Linked DNA regions of Homo sapiens. The protein of the gene in region 1 purifies or fractionates together with the protein of each later gene. This does not show direct contact. Each region holds a gene or a part of one and is shown on either strand. Other genes may lie near its edges.

Evidence for each region.
Region 2: the proteins of OXSR1 (region 1) and AIFM1 purify together in Homo sapiens (affinity purification with mass spectrometry; 2 studies listed by BioGRID and IntAct, with this or other methods). This does not show direct contact.

What each region holds. Positions count from the first base shown.
Region 1 is NC_000003.12:38,252,537-38,255,984, reverse strand, and holds the end of OXSR1 (serine/threonine-protein kinase OSR1), read right to left. Parts: intron 3,169-3,448; coding exon 3,094-3,168; 3' UTR 501-3,093; downstream 1-500. UniProt on the Homo sapiens protein: Effector serine/threonine-protein kinase component of the WNK-SPAK/OSR1 kinase cascade, which is involved in various processes, such as ion transport, response to hypertonic stress and blood pressure.
Region 2 is NC_000023.11:130,128,811-130,134,853, reverse strand, and holds the end of AIFM1 (apoptosis-inducing factor 1, mitochondrial isoform AIF precursor), read left to right. Parts: intron 1-1,398; coding exon 1,399-1,541; intron 1,542-3,054; coding exon 3,055-3,179; intron 3,180-4,687; coding exon 4,688-4,884; intron 4,885-5,225; coding exon 5,226-5,297; 3' UTR 5,298-5,492; downstream 5,493-6,043. UniProt on the Homo sapiens protein: Functions both as NADH oxidoreductase and as regulator of apoptosis.

The DNA.
Region 1 (3,448 bases):
GCCACTGCTGTTGGGAAGGGCAGATGATGAGGGAAGATTCCTCCTGCAGTGGGAGGATAACAGGAATACAAAGGAGCCTAGAATCTTACATGTAACTTCACCATTGCAATATCAAAGCCAAGAAGAGATAAGTTCAGCCCTGTTCTGAACTTTCGAAAGAGACTCCCAAGGGCTTGAATCTGGCATCCTTCCTTGCCCAACAGCATAAGCAAAACCAAAGATTTAAAAAAGATCAAAAGATAATAAAAGGAGTTCCATATCCCATCCTATCCAATTCCTTGGGCTGATCTCATCCCTCCCTTTTAGGGTTGCAGTTTCCCCAACTATATAATGGCTTTAATGGTTCTAGATAATTTGTAGATCAACAGACACACTTTACAGTTTATATGTACTTTGGCTTCTATTCGCATGAACAATTAAAGTTGGTGGTGATTCCTTGACCCACAACCCACAGCTCTCCGCCAACGGCCACTAAAATAAAGCGTCCATACACCACTAAGGACAATTTACTCTTTATTGATTAAAAATGAAGAAAACATGCAGTAAAATACAAAGTCCAAAAAAAGGAGGAAAAAGTTGAATATTTTACATCTTCCATAACCTAGCATACATCATAAGGAGGAATCTCCACTTATTGGTACATCATTATTCTCTCCTCCAGATTATTAAATATTATCAGCTGGCTCTAGGATTTGGTTCAAAACTTAAGCAAAAACCCAACAAATCCTTTAGTCGTTTAGAAAGACCAAACATTTCACAAATAGCATTGGCACATATTACTTTGTGCTATAGTTAGTCCCTACTCCAGGGACAAGGGGATCCTGGGACCTAGTCAAAGAGGTGCACTCTGAATCAGCATTCCTAGAAAGGAGTACAGTCACTCACTAGGTTACGTGCTGTTCCACCTGGGCAGTTTCTGTTCATGTATTTTCTCAGTATCACTGCACAAGCCAGCAAAGGGAGTCTACCACACATCATGCAGAAGAAGTAACACTGTCCTGGGACATGGTGTCTGTCTTCTAATTCCTAGCAGGGCAAACAATGAACTGAAAAGAAGGAGAAACCCCAGCCCAATTCTATTTGCCATGACTGCCCCACTGCAGTTCACAGGTAATGATGGGCTAGAGAAAGTGAACAGGGGATGGGCTGCTGCTCACTCCCAGCTAGGCACCAGACCATCTCCACAAAGAATGCTAGAACAGAGTGATGCTGCCACCCCTTGGATTCATAAATAAGTAGATTTTGATGGGTTTGAAAAAAAAAAAACAAAACTCTAAGGTAAGCGGTAAGCCACTAGTCTTGTGCCAAAGAAGATGCTATCTCTTTTCTATACCTCATTCCTACCTCCCCATCCTTGTTCCTCTCCGTCCCCCCTCCACAAAAAAAGAAAAAGAAAAGCTAAGTATTTTTCTAGCAAGCTGGTCAATCTTCTTTTCTCCCTCCTGGCTCAGCAGGCTCCCTCCTTTTACCAAGACTGCTGGGACGTTGAACTCCGGTGTCTGATCATCTCACCTACTCTCCTCCTAACTCCCAACTGAAATCCATCTCCTCTCTTCCTCCCCAACATCCATCTCTTTCCCAACATGCCTTTGCACCTAGAGCAGGTGAAGAAAGCCCATGACTAAAACTAAAGACTCAGAATGAAACAAAAGGTGTGACAAGTTATTTGTGGGGAAGGTTTTCAGATATGTTCCAAGAGAAAATAAGGTAAAACAACCTTGTTCATCAGACCAACAGTGCTGGAAAGGGCTCGAGTGATTCTGTAAAGGGCAACTCTCCCCCTTTCCAGGGACCCACAGCCCATCTTTGTGTATCTTTTTAAGGCCAGATTGAGTATCCCACTCATATATAAAACTCGGTAGGGTTACTAGCAGTTAGACAAAGACTATGAAACGGTAGGAAAAAAGAAAAATCAACCTCACTGATTATTCACATATTGCATTATGAGTGCTCTTTTTTAAACCTAAAGAATAATTTATATTATTTCTGTAGAAAATCAAATGAACACTGTCTACTCATAAAACCTAAAGGTCACGGCACATGTGGTTTCACTTTCCATCTTGAGTTAGCTTCAGCACACAGAGACCCCCTCCAAAGGGTCAGTGCAGGAGAGCAGGCAGAAGGCAGGCCTCTCTGGCCCAGTGTGTGTCTCCTTTATTGCTGTAGAAATCTCAGCCTTGCATACCCATTTCCTCACGACTTGGAGGCCAGGCGAACTGATTTTCATGGGAGGATTGAGTTTTTCTTCAATTTGATATTTGAAAATAAATACTTCTCCAATGATATGAATTATGATTTTCCTGTTCAAAAACCACCTCTGGCAAAATTCACATTTACAAGCCATTACTCGATGTTGTCTGTAAAAACAATCCAAAGTTCCACTTTGAAGGATCTGATGGCTGAAGTTCGGCTACAGTCAGATGTTTTGCACCAGCTGAAGTTAAGGCTAGCAACCCTTTCTGGAGAGAGCAATGAAGAAGGGGGTGCCTGAGAGCAGCTTCAGCAAAACGCTTAGAAACACCATGAACAAAACAAGAACACAGTTTAGGCTGCCTCCATCTGAGGCTGTGCTTTTTCCTAACAAAGGTTGCTAGAATTCACATCAGGTACAAAGAAAAAACATTAAATTAAATTCTCTGGGCTCCAGCTGAACAATCAATTCTACTTCAGTGGTAAAGAGATATCCCAAGATGTCCATATCCTGGCAGGTGTGGGGGAACAGGCAGGATGAGGAAGCCCGATACAGCTGCTACTTTTCCACCTGGGCCATCATTGGAGTAAGGCAAGAATGAGCTGACAGATCTCCCTCCTGGGCCTTGAAGCACATGGGCCACTTCTCAGATGGAGGAAGACAGGGGACATATGAAGTAAGTTTACTAACGGAACTCTGGGGATGCTGGCCACTAGTGATCCAACTTTTCTTTCCCTGTGGGAAAAGGAGGAATGATGGCAGGAAGAACATAAAGACTTCTAAAGCTCCTAGCCGGGAGGTTTGTTGCTGGGTTCTTTGGCAGTAGTGGGTTTAGGCCAATAGAAGCAACAGAGATACGCATGTGTGGAATCTCCTTAGGCCGCCTCTTCCAGGGTTGTGGTTTAGCTGATGCTGAGCTGGGCAAATCCTATCAGTTTACCATCATCAGGAATATCTGAGCCTTCGACACCAGATGCCTAAGAACCAAACAAAATGAGAAACTGTGATTATTTATAAACAAACTTGCAGGTAGCAAATAAAACAGACATGGGATAGTGGGAAGGTAGGCAGTGGGCAACAGGTCCCTAGGATACAAATAGGAGACTGACGAAGGTGTTTATTCCAGAAAAGAGGGGGGCTGGGTAAACAGCTAGAGTCAGACTGGCTAATAGTTTCTCTTATGAATAGCCAAGGGTCTCTGGGGTCAGAGGTTTCCTGGCATGGACAGAGGAAGAGTGGCCACTCAAAGGGAAACAT
Region 2 (6,043 bases), on another chromosome or scaffold:
GTTTAATGACTATATATTCCATTAAGCGAATTTCACAGTTTACGGTTGCTCACTCGTTGGATTTTTAGGTTGCTTTGGGGGAGTCTAAATAGCCACAAAGATGAACAAAGGGTTAGAGAGCTCAAATGCCACATCCTTCATGAAGCTGGTCCAGTTCACCCCCGGCTGGAGGTTCTCGCCCTCTGCTTGAAATACTTGACTCCTTTAATCTGTACCTCTCATATGGCACACTACTGTTTACATTGCTCTGTAGTTGTGAGCAAGGCTGTATCTTTCTGTACTAGGTTGTATGCTCCTCATAGTCAAGGTCCATGTCAGTTTTGTCTCAGCAACCCGGACAACATAATACTTTTGTATATAATAAGTACTCCATAAATATTTGTCGAATGAATGAATACTGAGTGACAAAAAGAAATCTAAGAAAACATTTCTAGGTGAGAGGCAGTCACATCCAAAAACTGGTTTCTACATATAGAAAAGAATATTCTGCAAATCATGGTTATTAAATATCCTGTCTGTTAAGGAAAGAACAGGAAGTAGACATAAGTAAACAAAACTATAGAAGATTTAGGTTAGCTTTATGGAAGCAGAATAGATTTTTTTTTCTTTTTTTTTTTGAGGCGGTGTCTCGCTCTGTTTCCCAGTCTGGAGTTCAGTGGCACGATCTCAGCTCACTGCAACCTCCGCCTCCTGGGTTCAAGCCATTCTCCTGTCTCAGCCTCCCAAGTAGCTGGGATTACAGGCGCTTGCCACCACACACGCCTAATTTTTTGTATTTTTAGTAGAGATGGGGTTTCACCATATTGGCCAGGCTTGTCTCGAACTCCTTGTGATCCACCCACCTTGGTCTCCCAAAGTGCTGGGATTACGGGCATTTGCCACTGCACCTGGCCTGGAATAGATGTTTTAAAATGAGATCTCAGGCCAGGCGTGGTGACTCATGCCTGTAATCCCAGCACTTTGGAAGGCTGAGGCAGGCACATTGCTTGAGCCCAGGAGTTCAAAACCAGCCTGCGCAACATGGCAACACCCCATCTCTACCAAAAAAAAAAAAAAAATTTAGCCAGGCATGGTGGTGCATTCCTGTAGTCCCAGCTACTTGGGAGGCTGAGGCGGGAGGATCATCTGAGCCTGGAGGTCCAGGCTGTGGTGAGCCATGATCGCACCACTGCACTCCAGCCCAGGCAATAGAGTGAGACCCTGTCTAAAAGAAAAAAAAAAAATTTAAATGGGTTATCAGCTGTTTTTGTTAGTTTAAGTACAACTCTGGCCTGTAGATGGAAAACATGAATTAGTTACCATTACAAGTGTTCTTTGAGCCCCCAAAGTTTATATTTTGTCTTTAACTTGCTTTTTTTTTTTTTATCATGTGTTCATGTTATGTATTTGTTTCCACAGGCAGGAGATGCTGCATGCTTCTACGATATAAAGTTGGGAAGGAGGCGGGTAGAGCACCATGATCACGCTGTTGTGAGTGGAAGATTGGCTGGAGAAAATATGACTGGAGCTGCTAAGCCGTACTGGCATCAGTCAATGTTCTGGTAATAGTGGTGTGCCTTGGAGACCCAACTGATTACAACTCAGTATCTCTAGGACCATAACACAGAGTTATGGTTTGGTTTTATTATGAGCCAGTTAGCTTCATACAGAAGGGAAAAAAGTCCATCTTATGTCCACACATTCTACCCTCAGGTAGCCATCTGGCAGAAGTGTCCTGTTTAGTTTTTCACCAAACTGATCCTTTTGTAAAACATTAAAAGAGAAAAAAATTATTTTAAGTGTTCTGTCTGGCGTATGTTAGACTAGGTGAATGAATGGAGATGGCACCAGCACTTCCGGCAAAATAGGTCAGAGGCCGAGGTGGGCGGATCACGAGGCCAGGAGTTTGAGACCAGCCTGACCAACATGGTGAAACCCCGTCTCTACTAAAAATACAAAAATTAGCTGGACGTGGTGGTGCATGCCTGTAATCCCAGCTACTCGGTAGGCTGAGGCAGGAGAATTGCTTGGACCCAGGAGGTGGAGGTTGCAGTGAGCCGAGATCACACCACTGCACTCCGGCCTGGGTGACAGAGCGAGACTCCGTCTCAAAAAAAAAAAAAAAAAAAAAAGGAGTGTCAGAAAGCATTCCAGTCCTAAAAGATGAAGGCTGGTCTGGTATGGTTGCTCATGCCTCTAATCCCAGCACTTTGGGAGGCCAAGGCCGGGGGATTGCTTGAGCCCAGAAGTTCGAGACCAACCTGGACAACATAGCAAGAGCTCGTCTGAATTTTTTAAATAAAAAGTTTTTAAAAGTTAAAAAAAAGAAAAGTGGAGGCTAAGGGGAAATACTGTAGGTTAATGAAGCCATAAAACATCTCAAATTCTGAATTCCATAAATGTGGAACACTCTTTAAAGCTTCAAAAAGGGAATTTCAAGACAAAAGTAGTGAATAGCAAAAGTGGGAACCTCATCACTTTCCAAATGTGGCATGGGATAAAAGCACGAATAAATTCAAGAACGTTTCAATCACCGCATGGATATGTGGTCGTGTATAATGGCTTTTTAAGGAAAAGTCAAAGCTATTAGGGTTAATCTTACTTTCTCATGGTCATCCCTAGATGCTCTAGCAACAGCAGATCAGTTGGCATCTCTCGTGATCTGCATACTAAGTTCTTTGGTTGGCATAAGAGTGCGGTGTTGGTCGGGTGCGGTGGCTCACATCTGTAATCCCTGCACTTTGGGAGGCCAAGGCGGGCAGATTACTTGAGGTCAGGAGTTCAAGACCAGCCTGGCCAACATGGTAAAACCCCGTCTCTACTAAAAATACAAAAATTAGCCAGGGTGGTAGTGGGTGCCTGTAATCCCAGCTACTCAGGAGGCTGAGGCTGGAGAATCACTTGAACCCAGGAGGGAGAGGTTGCAATGAACTGAGTTCGCACCCATTGCACTCCAGCCTGGGCAACGAGTGAAACTCCGTCTCAAAAAAAAAAAAATGCAGTGTCATGGAGAATATGTGCTACCGTGTCATTCCTTACAGTCCCTTGACAGAACACCCTCTTCTCTCTTCTTAGGAGTGATTTGGGCCCCGATGTTGGCTATGAAGCTATTGGTCTTGTGGACAGTAGTTTGCCCACAGTTGGTGTTTTTGCAAAAGCAACTGCACAAGACAACCCCAAATCTGCCACAGAGCAGTCAGGTAAGAAAGTCCTAGCACTCCTCTTGGAGAGTGTTGAGAAGCAGTGGTCCAGATTCTCCTGAACAAGGGGTTTCTGTATTGGCCAGAGGGGCTTGTCAGTGAAAGCCTCTCTTCATGTTGTGCTTTAAAAGAAACCAAACCCCAAGTCCTCACTCTTTAGTGGTCTGAGATTTGGCAAAATCAGGTATCCTGGTCAAAGCATAGATTCAAATATTGTGGGTATCTGTCCTAGACAGTGGACAGTGGCTAGCTCAATGACACTGCTGTTTTGTGTGTCTCTGGGAAGACCTTTCTAAGGAAGAAAACAAGAAAACCTGAACTTTTTAGATTGCGTTTTTATTTTTCTTTCTTTCAGTTGTCATTTTTATTATTTTGCTTCAGGCGAATCTCAAGAACACGGCCTGATAGGCTTAGCTTAAGACTGGCTATCCTCCATGGGTCCTGCGCAGGGAGGAACTGGGCTGAGTAGTTATTTAGCTGCCTCCCATTCCATTTGGCAGATCTTAGTGCCAGGTTTTCTTTAGATGGGAGGCACCTCTCTTGGAATGGACTTCTCTCCCACACATGTCTCTTTCATTAACTCCGAGACCTTATTCCTTGACCTTAGCTCAAGTTATTTAACTTCTGCATCCTTTTGCCAGAGGTGTCTCAAGGGCAAGGTGCTGTTTAAGAAGGAGAAAGCAAGACATTATATGGATATGTAGGTCCTTTTCCTGTGTAATTCTAATGTATTCCATATTCCTTAATTCTGATCTCTCCTAGTAACCTAGTAAGTGGATTCATGTCACTGCTTTGTCGACTGGACAGTATTATTTGGAGGCTGGTGGTTCTCAGCAAGGTGCCCCCTTCCTATGCCACCCTTCCCTTCCCCTCTTTCTCTAGGAAGAAATGCCTCCACTATGGTTTTTCCAAATGGAAGTGCCTTCTGCTTTGTCTAAAGTACCTGTCTAATAGCACTGTCCAATAGAACTTTCTGCTGCGATGGAAATGTTCCATCTCTGCTCTGTCCAGTACGTTAGCCACCAGCCACATGTGGCTTTTGAGCTCATGAAACATGGTGAGTACAGATAAGGAACTGAATTTTACATCTTACTCAGTTTGAAATGATGTTCATTTACATGGCTGTGGCTAGTGGCTACTGTATTTGGACCATGCAGCTCTAGAATTATTTCTTAGAGGACAAGAACCAGCCTTCTGCAGTTTGAAGAAATCCAGATACCAGGAAATATTCATAGCATGAATTTAAAATGAGATAATAAGGGAGGGAAGTTTAGGGTCAGACTGACCCTGTGCCCAGGAGCTGGCAAGGAAGACCTTTCCTTGGCTTTGTCACTGGAGAGGGGCTGGTGAAGGCCAGGGTTTACTGAGGGGGCATAGAGAAATAAATCCTCTAGAAGTAGCTTGAAGCAGGCCTCGAAAGACTGTTGGCTTCTAGAATTTCCCAAGCTCATAATAACTGAAGTTTTGATTTTGCTTCCATGTTTATTTGTTTTGGGGGCTGGCCACAGGAACTGGTATCCGATCAGAGAGTGAGACAGAGTCCGAGGCCTCAGAAATTACTATTCCTCCCAGCACCCCGGCAGTTCCACAGGCTCCCGTCCAGGGGGAGGACTACGGCAAAGGTGTCATCTTCTACCTCAGGGACAAAGTGGTCGTGGGGATTGTGCTATGGAACATCTTTAACCGAATGCCAATAGCAAGGAAGGTAGGTGCCTGTCATAACTCTTAGAGGAAGATGGGAAGTACGGCTTAGAAACATTCCTGTAACTTCATCGGGTGCCCTGAGATGCATTGTCCCCCGGCCAGGTCAAATTGTGCCTGAGCAGAACAAAGGTATAGCCTTGGCTCAGGAACATTCTTTTTCACTTGGGACTTGGCTGGGTGACCTGGGAGTTGGCAGGCTGCTTGTTTGGGGTTAGTAGAGAACTGTTCCCACAACTCCCTCCCAGTGTGATATGGGGACTGCCCCAGGTAGCCCCATTGTGTGGGCATGGCCTGAACGCAATGGAGTAAGTTAGGGACCTATTGTTACTCTCTCTCCCTCAGATCATTAAGGACGGTGAGCAGCATGAAGATCTCAATGAAGTAGCCAAACTATTCAACATTCATGAAGACTGAAGCCCCACAGTGGAATTGGCAAACCCACTGCAGCCCCTGAGAGGAGGTCGAATGGGTAAAGGAGCATTTTTTTATTCAGCAGACTTTCTCTGTGTATGAGTGTGAATGATCAAGTCCTTTGTGAATATTTTCAACTATGTAGGTAAATTCTTAATGTTCACATAGTGAAATAAATTCTGATTCTTCTAAATTAAATTCTGTTCTCTTGTCAAGGGGGCAGGTGGGTGAAGGTGGAAAGCCACGCATATTAGAAAGCAAGCAAATTGCAGCACCGACCAAGCACAGGATTTTTCTCAGCCATGTATTCATGCCCTACTCCAGACGCAAAACTCCTTTCATTTCCGAACTTCCCTCACCCCTCCAGACCTCTTTGCACACACCTGCTGTGGCCTCGGCCCACAACACTTGACTCCCCTCCTCTCCTCTCAGGAAGTTCACTATCTCTGAAGACTTTCCCAGCCTTCCAAGCCTCATCCTTGTGTATGTGTCTCCCTGCTAGCCCATGACTTCCTGGAAGCAGAAGCCCTGATGTTAAGGCCTTGCTCATGGTTTTATCTCCAGAGCTTAGCACAGGGTCTGCTTCATAGTAAGTGCTTCATAGATCATTGTCGAATGAGTGAACAAATAAATGTATGGAATAGACTTTGTTTACCTGGAACAACTCCTGTCCCAGAACTGGATTGGGTCCTGCAGGGGACAGAAAGGGCACTTACTACAAATCTGAGTTCAGAGACCTGGTGCTTCAC